4 separate regions of the Homo sapiens genome follow, and regions 1, 2 and 4 are each reported to be linked to region 3. The links are microRNA targets in miRTarBase. Many come from high-throughput screens and were not tested one by one. Region 3 holds a microRNA gene; each other region holds the end of a gene's coding sequence. Distances are between the middles of the regions.
The links. The annotated mature microRNA hsa-miR-5008-3p reads CCUGUGCUCCCAGGGCCUCGC and lies in region 3 at 1,145-1,165, opposite strand. An mRNA with a match to its seed (bases 2 to 7 or 8) in the 3' UTR can be bound and repressed. Matches are read on the target gene's strand: a 7mer-m8 pairs with bases 2 to 8, a 7mer-A1 pairs with bases 2 to 7 and ends in A, and an 8mer does both.

Region 1 (4,000 bases), not on the chromosome of region 3:
TTGGGAGTATTTTAGGAAGGTTTCCAACAAAAGTGGTTAAAATTAAGAGCTTTGTGGCCAGGCGCAGTGGCTCACACCTGTAATCCCAGCACTTTGGGAGGCCGAGGTGGGCAGATCACGAGGTCAGGAGATGGAGACCATCCTGGCTAACACGGTGAAACCCCATCTCCACTAAAAATACAAAAAAATTAGCCGGGTATGGTGGGTGGTGGGCACCTGTAGTCCCAGCTACTCGGGAGGCTGAGGCAGGAGAATGGTGTGAACCCGGGAGGCGGAGCTTGCAGTGAGCCGAGATCGCGCCACTGCACTCCAGCCTGGGCGACAGAGTGAGACTCCATCTCAAAAAAAAAAAAAAAAAAAAAAAGAGCTTTCCACTTAGAGGTGAACTTCATTTATTTGGGCCACCACTTCTTTATTCTTCAGTGATGTTAGATAAACCAGACATTGCTGCCTGTAAGTAAAACCCCATGCTGTCATTTCATTCATTTCATGGTTGCCTTTCTCTTTTTCAGATCCTGCTCACACTAAAATATGAACCACAAACACACAGAGAAACAACCTGTTCACCACTCCTGGGTGCATGATTGAGGGTGAAGCATCCACCAGCACTTCAAGGGGTCCATAGTATTTTTTTTTTTGCTGCCTCAAAGTCCCCAAAGCCTTCGAGCAGAAGTGGCAGTAGATGGTTGCCAATCAGCCAATGCAGACTTTCACTGGGACAACAAGAAAGCAGATCTTCTGGGTTTTGATGGAACTTGGCAGTGGGGACATTCAGCTGATGCATTATATACCCCGTCAGAGCACACTTGTATCTTTTACCTTCCCTTTGCCCCATGCCCCCAAACTGCTTAGGTCTTCTCTGTCCCTTTACTGCTGCTGCACAGAGATGATATAAAAGAGGCTCTTTGGCTATTTGCATTTTGCTTCCTCTTCTTTTCCAGATTACAGTATGAAGCTTTATTTTCTTTGTACAAGCTTAAAATTTCAACATCATCATCCGCCAAAGTTGTTCCTCCCTTTTCGGAGGATCTAGGGGGAAAGAGGAGCATTCATCACAAGTTTCCTAGAGAGAGGAGACAAATCGGTGTGCCATTGACAACATGAGCCAGGGTAAAGGCACCCTTTGGAATTACTGATTTCAAAGATTAATAAAGTAATTCTATTTTTATTTTCTTTTTTTTCCCTTTACTAATTTCCCAACAATCAATATTCACAAACAGGACTGAAGTAGAACCAGTTTTTTATTTTACTTTGTGGCTGTGCAATTTTTTAAACATTTTAGAAATGTGAGCTGTAAAGAGATGTTTTATTTTTACATTTCATTTCAGCAGATGGTGGGTCCAGGCTATTCCCAAAGGCAGCTCCTGCACCTGGGGAGCGGGCATGTGCAGATGTCTCCGTTATCAGCCCTCGACAGGCAGGCTCACTCACAGCGTGGGCCTCCAGTGGCTTGAGCCCTGTATCCAGTTGCATGTTGCATACCTCGCAGTTCACCTGAATGATGCAGCACAGCCCCAGTGCTCTCCCCTCAAGCCTCCGCCCTCTTGCTTCCTCCCCTTTCCTATGTCCTCTCTCTCTGGCTTCTGCTAGAGAAAAGGTTGAGAGTTGGACAGCAGAGTCCACTGAAGGATTAACTTAGCTGCCCTAGAGAGTTATCAGGGGAGAACCCAGGCTCTGGGGCTTCTTCAGCAGGGTACTATGGACTCAGTGTTGAAATCCAAAAAGAAAATTGACACCTGGCTGAGCGCAGTGGCTCACGCCTGTAATCCCAGCACTTTGGGAGGTCGAGGCGGGTGAATCACGAGGTCAGGAGTTCAAGACTAGCCTGGCAAAGATGGTGAAACCTCGTCTCTACTAAAAATACAAAGATTAGCTGGGCGCAGTGGCAGGCGCCTGTAATCTCAGCTACTCGGGAGGCTGAGGCAGGAGAATTGCTTGAACCTGGGAGGCAGAGGTTGCAGTGAGCCGAGATCATGCTACTGCACTCCAGCCTGGGCAACAGAGCAAGACTCCACCTGAAAAAAAAAAAAAAAAAAAAAAAAAAGAAAAAATTGACACCTAAAAGGGCAGAAAAGGGACTTTATTGCCTTCTTACTGAATGAAAACAAAGGTTTGGGCACATGGACACATTTTGTTTGCTTGTGAAGGATGAGGTCTATGGGTTTCAGAAGAGAAGTAAGAATGCATTCCAAATGTCCCCGGGACTGGAGAGTAGTTTCAGGACCACCTTAACTATTTGCTCAATTGGTTGTGAGTTGATTAGGGGACAAATTAGAATTCCTCCATAGTCCCCTGATGAGGTGTAGAATTGGGAAATAAGGGGTTTGGGAGGACTCACCACGTGAATCTTGTGACAAGGGAAAAAAGTATGAGCCCAGTAAAAGAAGTTTTAGACTATAATGCTTGAAATTGCCCTAGGTAACCAATCAGAATGAAGTCTTCCAGCTAATTTCTTACTGCACTTACCATATGCTGATCAGGTGCTAAGACACCAGATCTCTCCCTTCATGTGTCCAAGTGCTTTCAAGTCATTTTTATTGGGACTGGACTTCACTTGGCAATAAACCAGACAGATGCTATGAGCCCTCCTCCAACAGAGGTGATATTTCCAATGTCACTCTTTACCCTCCCCCAAAACAAGCGTCGATTTTTGAAGACAGTGATTCAAGTTTCTGTAGCACCTGTCAGTGATGTGTAGAATAGGGGGGCTGACTTCAGACCCCTGTCCGTATTTGTGTCTGCTGCCTAACCTACAAGTAGAGCTCTGAAGAAAAAGACCATTTGGAATTGCACCACGTTCTGTTTTCTTTGGAATAATCCAGGAAATGTATCTAGCTGCCTTGGTTCATTAGGATGAACCACAGGCCAATGTTTTAGCAATGTGCTGTGAAGTTGGATAAAAGGGGGTTTCATCTGGGGCCAAAAAAATTATTTCCCTTTTCTATATTGAAGCCTCAAGTAAGGACGAGTGATGTCGGGTGTAATGCACCACTTCTCAAAATGTGTTAATAGTTTTGAGGCAACCTGGACCCTACTGCAGTCCTAAAGGTACCTCTAGAGCTGCAGCCTGAAACTGTACATTTTAAATAAACCCTTGGGGGTTATCATGCCCAGTGAATTTGAGAATGGCCCTCAGGTGAATAGACTGATGCTGGGACAGCAGCAGCCCGTGGCTGATGTGCTGAGCTTACTGCATCCCCTCTCTGTGCCCCCGGGCTCCCTGGAGCAAGATGGAGTATAATCCCGCCAGCCAGGATTTTAGGACAGGGACATAGCCCTCCGAACGATGGTGGAAGTCAGTGGGTGCCACATGGGATGAAGACTGAGAGGGAAACCCTTAGAATTGGCTGGGCGTGGACAAAGCGGGGAAAAAAGTACTGACCAAACTCACTTCAGTCTTGGAGAACTCAAGGAACAAGGGACACACATACGTACACACACACACAGGCATGAACACATCAGACACATCCTTCAGCCTGCATACTTTAGCTTCAGATAGACTTTTCTTTTACTAGAGGCAAAGTGATCTCACTAGAAGAATGTGTTTCTCAGGAGCTGCTAGATGGCCTGTCGCTCTGTGCCCGCTCACTGTGGACGGCTGCCCCACGTGGATGTCCATACCACAGTGGGATCCACGGCCTCACTCAAAAGAGAGCTATGGTTCCCAGATCCCTGACAAGAGGGCCACAATCTGAAAAGGGGTTCCTGGTTAGCTCTTTTAGGCTTAGCCTGAGAACAGAATTAGCCTCATATTTTTAGGCCATTTGCCATACACATTTTCTCTCATTCTCAACTGATACGGGTGGGGGGAGATTTTCGAAAACAGTGATGTTGGTAATTTATAGTTAGTAAATAAACCATGTTTCCATATGCAAGGATTCACACCAGGGGATCCTGCCCACAGGTATCTGGAGGTCAAATTCGTATGTGCTTTCTGCCAATCTGAGCCACTGCCTCTGTGTCTCTGAGAATAATATACTCTGCAAGAAGGAAAGACGCA
Region 2 (4,000 bases), not on the chromosome of region 3:
CTGACTGATACCGCAGCACTGAAAACAAGGAAAATGGGTAGAACGCTCCTTCCCATCGAGGTCAATCGCACAGCCACAGAGGACCCACACCTTCGGCTCAGATGAAGCTGCCACAGTGACCCACTGGTTCCAGCCCACACACCCTCAATCCAAGAGATGGGTCTGGGGCCGGGCAGCTGTGGAGGGGGGTCTGGTCCGAGACCAAATCCTTGAATCACCCCCAGGGAGAAGGCGGCCAGGCCTTCTGGAGCAAGGCGTGGATGGTGCAAATGGTGTGGCTTCTGTGTCCCTGCAGGGCGGGGGCCAGGCCAGGGGCCATGACCTTCTTTTCTGGCCAAACGGCCACTCCTGAGTGTGTCTCTCCCACGGGTAGACAGCGTCAGCCACAGAGCACTCAGGATTCAGTTGGGTCCAAACTACAGCCCAAGGAATTGTCTCATTCTGCTCATGTTTTCTATGTTTCTTCCAAAACTCTATGCATATTATTTTGGTGATATTATTGTAAGTGGCAAAAGTAAACATTAAAAACACTAAGCACAGAAACTTGAAAAGAAAAGGTCAAAATTCAATACCTGGGATGGTGCACAGTGGCAGGCAGGACCACATCATCACGTGTCAGACAAAAGCGTCCCACAGGGAAGCCAGTCATCTTTCCCCAAAAAGCAGCGAGACCTCAGGAAGCCGGGCAGCCAAAAGCATCAACAACCCCAGCGCTTTCCAGGGGTAGCCACAGGTGTGAACAGCTCAAAGGTGGAGCGCAATATCAAATTCATTTCTGAAAAATTGCCAGGCGCTGTTTCAGCACAAACTCCCTGCACTTACCTATCCCTCTTCCCAAAAATGGTAAAAGAGAGAAAAACATTTTCCACAATGTATCCTCCACGATCAATAAACATCTGTGTTGGCCGGGTGCGGTGGCTCATGCCTGTCATCCCAGCACTTTGGGAGGTCGAGGCGGGTGGATCACTTCAGGTCAGGAGTTCGAGACCAGCCTGGCCACACATGGTGAAACCCCATTTCTACTAAAAATACAAAAATTAGCTGGGCGTGGTGGTGGACGCCTATAATCCCAGCTGCTCGGGAGGCTAAGGCAAGAGAATCACTTGAACCCAGGAAGCAGAGGTTGCAGTGAGCCAAGATGGTGCCATTGCATTCCAGCCTGGGTGACAGAGCAAAACTCCGTTTCAAAAACACAAAACAAAAAACAAAACACACACACACACACACACACAAAACCTGTGCTAACAAAAAGTTAAGTCATTAAATGAAAATTCATCTCCCAGCTGAGCGCAGTGGCTGACACCTGTAATCCCAGCACTCTGGGAAGCCGACGCAGGCGGATCATTTGACCCCAGGAGTTTGAGACCAGTCTGGCCAATATGGTGAAACCCCGTCTCCAACAAAAATACAAACTTAGCTGGGTGGCCAGGCGCGGTGGCTCACGCCTGTAATCCCAGCACTCTGGGAAGCCGAGGCGGGCAAATCGTGAGGTCAGGAGATCGAGACCATCCTGGTTAACATGGTGAAACCCTGTCTCTACTAAAAATATAAAAAATTAGCCAGGCGTGGTGGCGGGCGCCTGTAGTCCCAGCTACTCGGGGGGGCTGAGGCAGGAGAATGGCGTGAACCCGGGAGGCGGAGCTTGCAGTGAGCCGAGATCACGCCACTGCTCTCCAGCCTGGGTGACAGAGCAAGACTCCGTCTCAAAAAAAAAAATTAACATACAAAACCCACCCATCTCCAGTTTCACAGCCGTGGCGAAGGGTGTGAAGCACTGTAGCCTGCCCTCTCTGGCGCTTTCCCTTCTAAGCCGCAGGAAGGCACCGCTTGGAGGGAGCCCCTTCAGGCCCAGACACTGGCAGGGACGAGCAGCAGCAGTGGCCGACCGCCCGCCTGCACCTGCCTGGCACCTGCGCCCGGAGGATCCACTCCCACCCACACCCTCGGAAAAGGACAGGTGGCCCAGAGGCATCCGTGTGTTCAAGAACCGCAGAACATGAATGTGGACACCATCCCAACCAGGACTGTTCAGGGTGTTCTTGTTCTCTTGTTCTCACTCACTGACTACCAGCTTCTCGACGGGAGGGCCCCGTCTGAGACACAGAGCTTCACACGTTCCTTCTGCTTTATTTCCTCTCCCTAGTGAAACATTAAACACAGGAGGAAAAGATACAGATGTAGCCATCAGAAGGAAGTGAGGCTGTCATTCCAAATGGCCCCCCACCATGAAGAAACCCAGGCTTCTTAAATCAGGAACCTCACGTCTCAGTTTTCCCTCAGGTTTCTTTCTGTGGTGTGAGGACAGAAACAGGCGTCCCTGCATTCCTCAGCAATCCTCTCCTTCCTCTAAAGGCACGGGAGAGGATTTCCGAGCGCCTGCGATGCTGTGGGGAACCGCAGGCTGGGCACCGTCACCAACGCGTCACAACAGAGCAAATCTGCATAGCCTTCCCCAACTACCACCGAAAGGATGGCTCCGGCTCAGCTTGGTGAACGCTCATTAAACAAAAAGCACACTCGAGTTTCCTAGCTTCATTCCAGAACTGCTATTGTGGCACAACAAATTCACAACAAATTCACATCGGAGTCCCCTCGACCGGGAGCTGCGGGCCTGGGAATGCACAGCACAGGCAGAAGCATTCGTGGTTCGTCAGCTCCTGGCAGACGGGACTCACTTCACGGACACACAGACCCACGATCTTCATGCTATTAGGGTAATTTCATCTTCACAGTAAAAAATCACCAATTCCCAGAGAAACGGAGCATCAGCCCAGCTGTCGCACAGGGTCTCGCGGGTGCTGGTCACGGGACCTGCGGCCACTCCAAGCTAATGAAGAGCCGTTTACTCCGGAGGTGAGTCCCCGAGGGAGGACTGAAGTCCAAGCTAAAAAGGCGGCGCCAGCGAAGCGGAGGCCGCTTCCTCCAGGGAAGAGCCCCCAGCCCTCCCGGGCCCATCCGAGGCGCCCCACGCGGGAGCGCACGGTGGCCGGAGGCGGCGCGGAGCCGAGTGTGAGGAGGGCAGCCGCCGCCACGGCAGTGGCCCCACGCGCGCCTCGGTGGCAGGTGCTCCAGCGGGCGGGGCACGCGGAGCCCGGGCTGTACCGGACAGTCCTGGAAAACCACAGGAAAGCTACGCGAGGGTGGCGGCCGCCCTCCGTGGACCAGGTTACCATGTCCCCGCCCGCACGCCCGGCCGGGCAGCCCGAGCTCACGCGCGCCCGCCCACGTCCGCCGGGGTCCCTGCTGATGCTCGGGGGGAGTCCTGTAAAAGCCACACTGAGGTCGCGGCGGCGAGTCCCTGCAAGGTCGCCCTTCTGTGCGAACAGGCTTTGGTGGTTCTTGTTCTAGGAAACATCCAGCGCTTCAACTGGCCACGGAGTTACTAAGTATCAACCGAACAAGGTAGTTTTAAAAGGAAGGGAAATATTGCGACACGAATGAAGGGACAGATTAACTTGCTCCTCGGATCCGGGCACACAGCTCCTCCTACTTCTTCTTCCTCTTTTCCTGGACACACCGTGGACAGAACCTGTGACAAGAAAGGCGCAGTGAGGCCCTGGGCGCCATTTCCGCCAGCGCGCAGGGTGCCCAGGGCCCGCCTCCCCATGTCTCCCAGGGCTGCTGGACGCCGGCAGGAGGGCACCAGGAGAGGCACACGCAGTGGGGCCGCGGCCCTCCCGCAGGGAAAATGCGCCGATGCACGTGCGGCTCTATGCAGGACGCCGGTTCTGAAGCTGACAGATACACCATCAATGAGCAAAACCGATTTGACACCCAGGCGTTCCTCCTTAACAGGTGGGTCCTTCTTCCCCGGCCGATGGCAGGGTCGCTGGTGCCCTCTGTCTGCAGTCTGTGGGGGCTGCAGGTACCAAGCACGCGTTGAGAGCATGGCAGCCCCTCAGGCCCACGGAAACCCAGCCAGGCACCCTGCACTGGCCCTGGAAGCTGCCGTCTCACAAGTGCTCCCTGGTGACTCTGAGCAAGTTCTGGAGCTGCACGC
Region 3 (4,000 bases):
TCCCTTCTGGAGCTCACTCTCCTGTAGGTGTCACAGAGGGAGCATCCCAAAGTCCACCTGGCTCCCCTCCCCACCCCACAGTGACTCCAGGTCTGCAGCCTCTGTCCCCATCTGGCCAGGAGGGACGCCGGCCCTGACGTTCTCCAGCTCTGGGAGGCTCTGGCAGCAGCTCCTCCTGGGCCAGACCTCCAGCCCACTTCCCCTGGCTGCACTGACCTCAGGTATCGCTAAAAAAAACAAATGCAGCCTGCGGCTTGCCTTTTTCCATCGTCCCATCCGGCCACTGGTCCTGAGGTGCTGCAACTGCCAGCTGGACAGCTGGGCTTCCTCTGGCGGGCAGCGGCGCCCAGCCAGCCAGGACCATGCCGGGAGGGCAACAGGCTCCTGGGAGGGCCCAGGCTGCAGGTCACGGGGCCGGGGCGGCCCAGTGCCACCCAGGTCAGCAGGCACAGCAAGACCATCCCCAGCCACCTGCCACCCTGCCCGGCCTGGACCACGGATGTGCTTGAATATGACCCCTGAAGGAAAACCAGGGTCACGTCCCCGCCGGGGCTGCACTCTGCATGGCTGCTCTGGTGGGGCCATCAACACCTGGCCTATCGTCCACACACGGGAAGGTGCGGCAGCCTGGCAGCCAGGTCTGCACTGCACTACGTCTGGCCACAAGTGTAGACACAGCCCTGCCAGAGTCAGAGTCCTGTAGGACCCGGGGCTGGGCTGCCAGGTGAATGAGTGACACAGATCCACCTGGCAGGGAGAGCCTCAGGCTTGAGGGAGTCTTGGGATAGGAGGGCACACAGAATGCAGCTTGGAGAAGACCCCACAGGGACCCTTCTGGCCAATCCCAGAATTGAGCGACCAGGGAGAGAAGGATGCATCTGAGGAGAACACAAGGGGACCCTCCTGGCTGATCCCAGAGTTGAGCGACCAGGGAGAATAGAATGCATCTGAAGAGACCCCACGGGAACCCTCCTGGCTGACCCCAGAGTTGAGCAACCAGGGAGAGAAGGATGCATCTGAGGAGACTCCATGGGGACCCTCCTGGCAAACCCCAGAGTTGAGCATGCAGGGAGAGAAGGAGGCATCTGGGCAGTCACTGGGCTTCCTGCAAGAAGCAGCAGCTGGGGCCGACCTCAAGGGACAGGCGAGGCCCTGGGAGCACAGGGGAGATGGCACCACTGTGCCCCAAGGGCCTCACCTGACCCTAGGGGTCAGCCCCATCAGAGGTCAACTTCCAGCCAGAAGGCATGGGGTCTGGGGAACCCCCACTCGTGGCTGGCCTTCTGGGTTCTGGGGGCCTGGCTCAGTCCCCAGTCCCACAGACACTGCTGCGGGAGCCACCCTGGTCCCAGACAACTGCACCGGTCCTGACCCCGCCGCCCAGCACAATGCACAAAGGGAGCCCGTGCCGCAGCTGGGATCAGGTGGCGCGACCGAGGCCTGTCAACAGGTGTCGCTTTCCCGCAGCCCCCACCCTCCCACAGGCATCACCTCCTCCCTGCCCCAGGGTCCAGAGCCTCCAGGAGGTATCCGTGCCTGTGTGCTCTTTCCTAGGGGAAGAGTCACCCACACGCTTCTTTGATGGCCAAACCCCAGAGCAGGGCACCCCCAGCCCGGGCCACCCCAGCAGCCGGCGGAAGGTCCCAGGCCAGGGCAGGCACTGGGGCCCTCTGCAGCCTGCAGCAGGGCGGGAGCAAGATGAGGCCAGCTGTCTCCCCAACCAGACGTCCGCCGGCTGTGGACAGGACATCTGCTCCCTCAGCTGTGGCAGGCCAGGCACTGCTGCTCCGTCCTTACCACACACCCTCCACACCCTCCAGGGAGCCAGGACCCCCAAGCAGGTGGGGCAGGGAGAGGCTGGGGGTTCCAAGGCCCCTGGGTGCAGAGCAGGAAGGAGGAAGGCCACCAGCGCCTGCAGGGGCCATCAGGCTGACACTCCAGACCCTCCCACTTACGGCCCCACTGTCAGGGAAGCCAAGCACCTGGGTCCCTCTACTGGCCACGGGGTCCCAGTCCAGGAGTCCTGGAGAAATGCCCCGACTTTCCACTGGCCCTGTCCTCTCCTCTCCATGCTAAGAAGTCCCCAGGGAGTCCCCTGGCCCCCAGGGCCCCTCCTCTCAGCCCTCTGCTGAGGTCTGCCCCACTGAGCCACTTCCACGATCTCTCGAAACAAGGCAGCTCCCTGGCCCCTTTCCTCCCTGCCCTTCTGGCCCTCCAGAGCACTCTGTGTGGCCTTTCTTCCTGATGCCAGGCCCCACATGCTTCCTGGGGTGTCCTAAGTTGTTGGAGGGGGTGGGTCTCCAGGACAGTGCCTGCCCAAACCTAAGCCTGAGCTCTCAGCTGCTCCCAAACCCCCCGGCCCACAGTGCTCAGAGCACCCGACCCAGGCCCCAGCCATGGGGTCACCCCAGATGCCGCCTTCTTGCCAGCTCCTTCCCAGGCTTCTCTTGCCCAGCACACAGCCCCATGATTCCACACCTCAGGCCCACCCCTCCTTCTCCGGCCCTGCCAGGGACCCACAGGTGCCCCTCATCCAGGCAGCCAGCTGTGCCCCAGGCCTGATGCACAGAGAGGCAGAGCCATGGGACCAGGCAGGGTATGTCCTGCCCACAGCCAGCAGCCTCCCTCTTGGACCCTGCGGGGTCTGATGTTGGCACTAATGTGAGAAACACATCCCCTCCCCACGCCCATGACAGCAGCCTCTCCGCAGCCTCCTCTTGAGAGTCCCCTGAGCACCCAGAACTGCCCCACACCAGGCTCTAGGCAACGGGGGATGTCCTGGCTGCCCCCACCCACCCAGTGGGGCTGCCAGGGTGTCGCTGGCTCCTTGTGCAGGGGTAAGAGCGCCCACAGGCTCACAGGTCTAGAGACAAGGTTCTTCTCAGTCCAAGGAGAAATCCAAATATATAAAGAGCTCTCATAAACTCAACAGGAGAAAGACAAGCAGCCCCACTAAAAACAGGCAAAGGAGCTGCATGGACATTCTCCAAAGAAGACCCATGGCCCATGAGGCCACGAAAAGATGCTCAGCGCCACTGGCCACCTGACAAATGCAGTCAGAGCCCCACAAGGTGCCATTCCACACCCACTAGGATGGCTGCGGTAGAAAATAAAACAGAAAACCAGTGTCAGCGAGGAAGTGGAGAAAGGAGCCTTTCTGCACTGCCGGCAGAAATGTAAGATGCTGCATCCAGAAGGGTTTGGCAGGGCCTCAAAAACCTAAATGCAGGCGGGGAGCAAGGGCTCACGCCTGTAACCCCAGCACTTTGCGAGGCTGACGTGGGAGATCCCTTGAGCCCAGGAGTTCAAAATCAGCCTGGACAGCATGGTAAAACCCCATCTCTACAAAAAATAAAATTTAAAAAAATTAGCCAGGATTAGTGGCTTGTGCCTGTGGTCCCAGCTACTTGGGATGCTGAGGTGGGAGGACGGTTGAGCCTCTGAGGTGGAGGCAGCAATGAGCCTTCATCACATCGCTGCACTCTAGCCCGGGTGACAGAGCAAGACTCTGTCTCAATAAAACAAAACAAAAACATCACATGCATGTGACCCAGTACCTCCACTTCTATGTACCCCAAGAACTGAAAACACACACACACACACAAAACCTCACATACCAATGCTCACAGCAACATTATCCATCATAGCCAAACAGTGGAAGTGATCCAGATGTCCGTCAACTGATGAACGGTCAAAAAATCTCTCGGAGAGTCTTCCAGTCGAGTCTAACTCAGTCATAAGAAAGAAGGCAATACTAACGCGTGCTACAACGGTGATGCTGAGTGAGAGAAGCCAGGCGCGGAGGCCACACGGCATAGGATTCCATTTCTAGGAAACGTCCAGGACAGGCAGACCCGTGGAGAAAGAACGCAGACAAGTGGTTGCCAGGGACTGGGGGAGGGGAACGGGCAGCGACTGCCTAATGCGTATGAGGTTTCTGGGGTGAGGAAAATGTTCTGGAATTAAACAGTGGTGAGAGCTGCATGGCCTGGCAAATGAG
Region 4 (4,000 bases), 180 Mb from region 3:
CAGGACCCTTTGTTACTAGGTTTTGCCCCATGGGAGTGTGCTCTTTTATCTGCATCATTGAGGCCCTATCTCTTTCTTTTCCCCTTCTCTTCCTTTCTGTCTATTCTTCTTTAAGCATCCCTCTGTGAATCTCTCAAAGCAATTTTGTGTCAGCTTCCTAATGTATTTACAGATATTCTCATGTAAGGTGCAGGTCTTGGGTCACACAGTTCTAAGATAAATCTACTCTCACTGCCATGGTCATATTTCAAAATGACCATGAACCCAAAGCATGGGACTTGTAACAGTCTGAGCTGTCCAATGACAGAGGAGGTAGTGAGCGATCTGTTATAGGAGGTGTGCAAATAGCACCCTTTTAGAATGCTGGGATTGGGCCTCCTGTGGTGAGCCAGAGGAAGAGGCAGCAGAATGGAGGGCCTTCCAGATTCTAGAGGAGTGACTAAAGGCAGGGATATTGGGGGCTGGAAGGGAAGCAAGGCAGCTGGCCAAAGACACACTTGATTCAACAAGCTATTATATGTCAAGCACTTAGAAGTGTACCTGACACATAATGAACATTAGCTGTTATGATGACTGTGAATGATTCATAGACTATATAATGAAGGAGCTGAGATCAATCAGTCCTTCACTCCCATCACTGATAACAAAATAGATGAAGGGTTGGGGTCTAGAGGGGGAATGGGCTTGCAATGGAACTTCAGGAGCTGGGCTGGGGCTACAACCTATGCCTTTGCCTCCCAGGAGAGCCTCTGCACAAAGCCAGGCTGGCTCCTTTGCAGGAAGAGGGAAGAGCTCTAGATGGGCCTTTGTTGACTCTTAAGAACCAAGCTGCTTTTTAATTCCTGCCCAGGCAGCTTGTGAGTTGGGGCAGTGGAATGACAGCAAGACCTGAGCCAATAGATGCAGATGTCTACTGGGGAGTAAGCTCAGGAGTCAGGCCCATGTCCTGCCACCCCCACCGTAGCTCCAGCCAGCAACAAGTATCTTCCTCTTCAGGATGGCCTCCTGTCCTGTAATTAGTGTTGGGATTGTATTTCCACTCTGTCCTTTTATCTACTACCTCAAAAAAAAACCACCCAGAGTAAGGGGCTGGAGTGAGAATAGCCAATGCCAGGCCAGGCGTGGTGGCTCATGCCTGTAATCCCAGCACTTTGGGAGGCCGAGGCGGGTAGATCACGAGGTCAGGAGATCGAGACCATCCTGGCTAACGCGGTGAAACCCCGTTTCTACTAAAAATACAAAAAAATTAGCTGGGCGTGGTGGTGGGTGCCTGTAGTCCCAGCTACTCCGGAGGCTGAGGCAGGAGAATGGCATGAACCCAGGAGGCGGAGCTTGCAGTGAGCCAAGATCGCGCCACTGCACTCCAACCTGGGTGACAGAGCAAGACTCCATCTCAAAAAAAAAAAAAAAAAGAAAAAGAAAAAAAAGAATAGCCAATGCCAGGCAACCTGAGATGAAACAAGGAACGATTCCTATCAGACTGAGTTCCCGGAAGGCAAAGAAAAGCCAGGCTTCTCCACCCCAAGCGTCCTAGCCTAGCTCGGTCTAGAATTTCCAGAGCCCCAGGAGAATCTTTGTGTCCCCACCCTAGAGAGCTGGGCCAGACATGACCACACCAGCCAGCCCTCCACATGGTCCAGTATCTCAGGACAAAAAGCCTTCCCAGCCCCATTCTGGCTCAGTTCCTTCCATGGTCTGCCAAGAGCCATGTGGCACCCAGATCACCGCTTCCCACCAGTGGCTGCTTTAGTTTGCCTTTTATTTTACCAAAAATAACAACAATAAAGTCTTCCCTCTGTTTCATAAAAATAAATTTTCCAACCCTCCCCCTATCCCAGAAATCAGCCCTTGCCACAGCCTAGAATCCATCATGCAAGTCACAGCACTCTGGGAAAAGCTCCTACTACCCTCGCTCCACAGCCTCTGGCAAAGCTGCCAGGCCACTCTGGAGGCGGCAGAGGCAGAAGTCCCAGGCCCAGCTGGCTGGGCCCAAGAGCTCCATCTGTTTCCCCAAAGTACAGGCAGCTTCTAGGCCATTGAGTGGGGCATGATATTGGATGCTTGGCTCAGGAAACAACCCCAGCCAACCCAAGGGGCAGTGGGACATGTTGGCCTCAGGTTAGAAATTATTGCTCAAAGCAGAAACAGTTGTGTCCTAGAGAGGGTCTGTTAAACCCTCTTTCCATGTGTATCTCTATGTAGCAATTGATGGGCCCTGCGGTCAGGATCCCTGGTTTCTCCAGCTCCATGAATGCCTCCCTGTGAGGCCCTGGACAGTTTCTCCCTCTTCTTCTCCTGGCTTCAGTTTCCCCGTATGTACATTGAGACAGTAAGACTGGATGATTCTCAGGTTCCCTCTGGCTTTCCATTCTGGCATCCCAGAGTGGAGGCTCTGGGAGGGCAGAACCCTGTTCCTGCCTCAGTTTCCCCACCTGTGGGTCTGCGTATAGGGCTGGGTATGGAGGTACTGAGTAATGGAGTGCTGCGTGAACATCCCAGTCTCCCTGTGGATAGCTGTGCTGTGAGATCCAACTGGCTGGAATGTGTCAGGGATGGCTGGGAAGGAGGCAGGTACTTTTAGGATGGAGGATCTCCATGCCTGGAAGAGTCCATTCACCAACTACATCCTCAATGTGCTGGGATGGGAGACAAGACTCCAAAGTTCCCAATTCAAGTTCCACAAGCTCCTTGGACGGGGAGATTATTTTGTGCTGGGCTTCAGATCCGAGGAGCCAGGTCTGTAGATTCTGGGAGCTAGAGTGGAGTATATGATTCCCAGATGAAGGGCCAGGGGACCTTTGTGTACTTGAGGGATCATCTCCAACCCCCAGGAGGACACGTATAATACAGGCCTTCTTGGAGGCAGAGGGATGAGTAAAATGTCAGCTCATGGGCATCTCTGGGTAAGAGAATCAGAGCCTGTGTCTGCAGTGGGTCGGTTTAGGAACTCAAGGCAAGGCTCCTCTTCCTACGTTCCCCCAGCTCTCCAGGACTCATGCTGATGGAAGAGTGTAGCCTGGAAGGTTTGAATGTAGAGCAACATCTACAACCACATTTTTGTGCACTTACACACATGGTCAGATACACTGAGTGGGGACGCTGAGCTGTCATCACTCCTACAGTGGTCATGGTCTGATGGTCCCATGGTCTGATGGTCCCAATCTATTTATCCATCCATCCAACATTTATGGAAGGCCTACTATGTGCCAAGGAGGGGTAAGGCAGCTAGCTCTCACAGACACACCCCACAGTGAAAATCACACACACACACACACACCCCGGCATCTGTGCTCACTCACAGGCAGACTGCTCACTTTCTTGCACCTTTCTTGCCATCACCTCGGCCACACCCACATTCCTCCAATAGGCTTGGGAACCAGCATGGAAGGGTCAAGTGTCATAGAAGAAACCCCCTAGCCTACCCTACTCCCAGACTTCATGCCAGAGGTTTAACTCCACTTCCCTTCTGTTTGCCTGCCTAGATGCTCTCCCCTTCTCCATCCACAAGCGGTCAGGGCGACAGGTAGGCAGACTCCTGAGAACCAGAAGTCCAGAGGCTTTGGGTGTGTGGAGTGATTCCAGTGCCTTCAGATTCCTTCAGGCTCCTGGGGGTCCCCTCTGCCAGCCACCCTATGTTCAGATCGTCCATCTGATGGCCAAAAAAGTCCAGACCTGGGCTCAGTGGCAGATCCGCTCTGTCATCTCCCTCTGTAGAGACACAAGGTAGGGAGGGGTCAATTAGAGCTCAGCCTACTAGGCAATCCCTTCCCAAACCATAGGGCCTAGCTGCTCTTCTGTCTGAGCCTGGCCTTCCCCCAGCAACCCCAACTCTTAGGCTGCAGATCTGGGTTTGTAAACCAACACTTGAATGAATTCTCTATTGAAGTACAGAATTCACTGTTAAATGAATTGCCTTCCCCTAATTCATCTACTTGGGCGTTGGAGTTACTTAAAGCAGGCAGCTTTTGGACGTGAAAACTCAGAGGCTAGCCTTGGTAGG

Region 1: miRTarBase lists TTLL5 as a target of hsa-miR-5008-3p. Seed matches in the 3' UTR shown: 7mer-A1 at 879-885.
Region 2: miRTarBase lists ING5 as a target of hsa-miR-5008-3p. Seed matches in the 3' UTR shown: 7mer-A1 at 3,314-3,320 and 7mer-m8 at 1,237-1,243.
Region 4: the mRNA of MOB3C is a reported target of hsa-miR-5008-3p. Seed matches in the 3' UTR shown: 8mer at 3,285-3,292 and 7mer-m8 at 2,515-2,521.

What each region holds. Positions count from the first base shown.
Region 1 is chr14:75,953,912-75,957,911 of GRCh38, forward strand. It overlaps TTLL5 (tubulin tyrosine ligase like 5), which reads left to right. Exons shown (of 32, transcript NM_015072.5): 32 at 513-1,168. The coding sequence ends at 535. Among named protein-coding and RNA genes, the nearest start is that of TGFB3, 26 kb to the right of the region's middle.
Region 2 is chr2:241,724,518-241,728,517 of GRCh38, reverse strand. It overlaps ING5 (inhibitor of growth family member 5), which reads right to left. Exons shown (of 8, transcript NM_032329.6): 8 at 1-3,529. The coding sequence ends at 3,487. Among named protein-coding and RNA genes, the nearest start is that of D2HGDH, 8.1 kb to the left of the region's middle.
Region 3 is chr1:227,940,466-227,944,465 of GRCh38, forward strand. It overlaps MIR5008 (microRNA 5008), which reads right to left and starts at 1,218; the gene lies at 1,125-1,218. All of the region lies in intron 1 of WNT9A (Wnt family member 9A), which reads right to left. RefSeq lists an enhancer at 1,665-2,567.
Region 4 is chr1:46,605,977-46,609,976 of GRCh38, forward strand. It overlaps MOB3C (MOB kinase activator 3C), which reads right to left. Exons shown (of 4, transcript NM_201403.3): 4 at 1,743-3,708. The coding sequence ends at 3,679. Among named protein-coding and RNA genes, the nearest start is that of MKNK1, 3.7 kb to the left of the region's middle.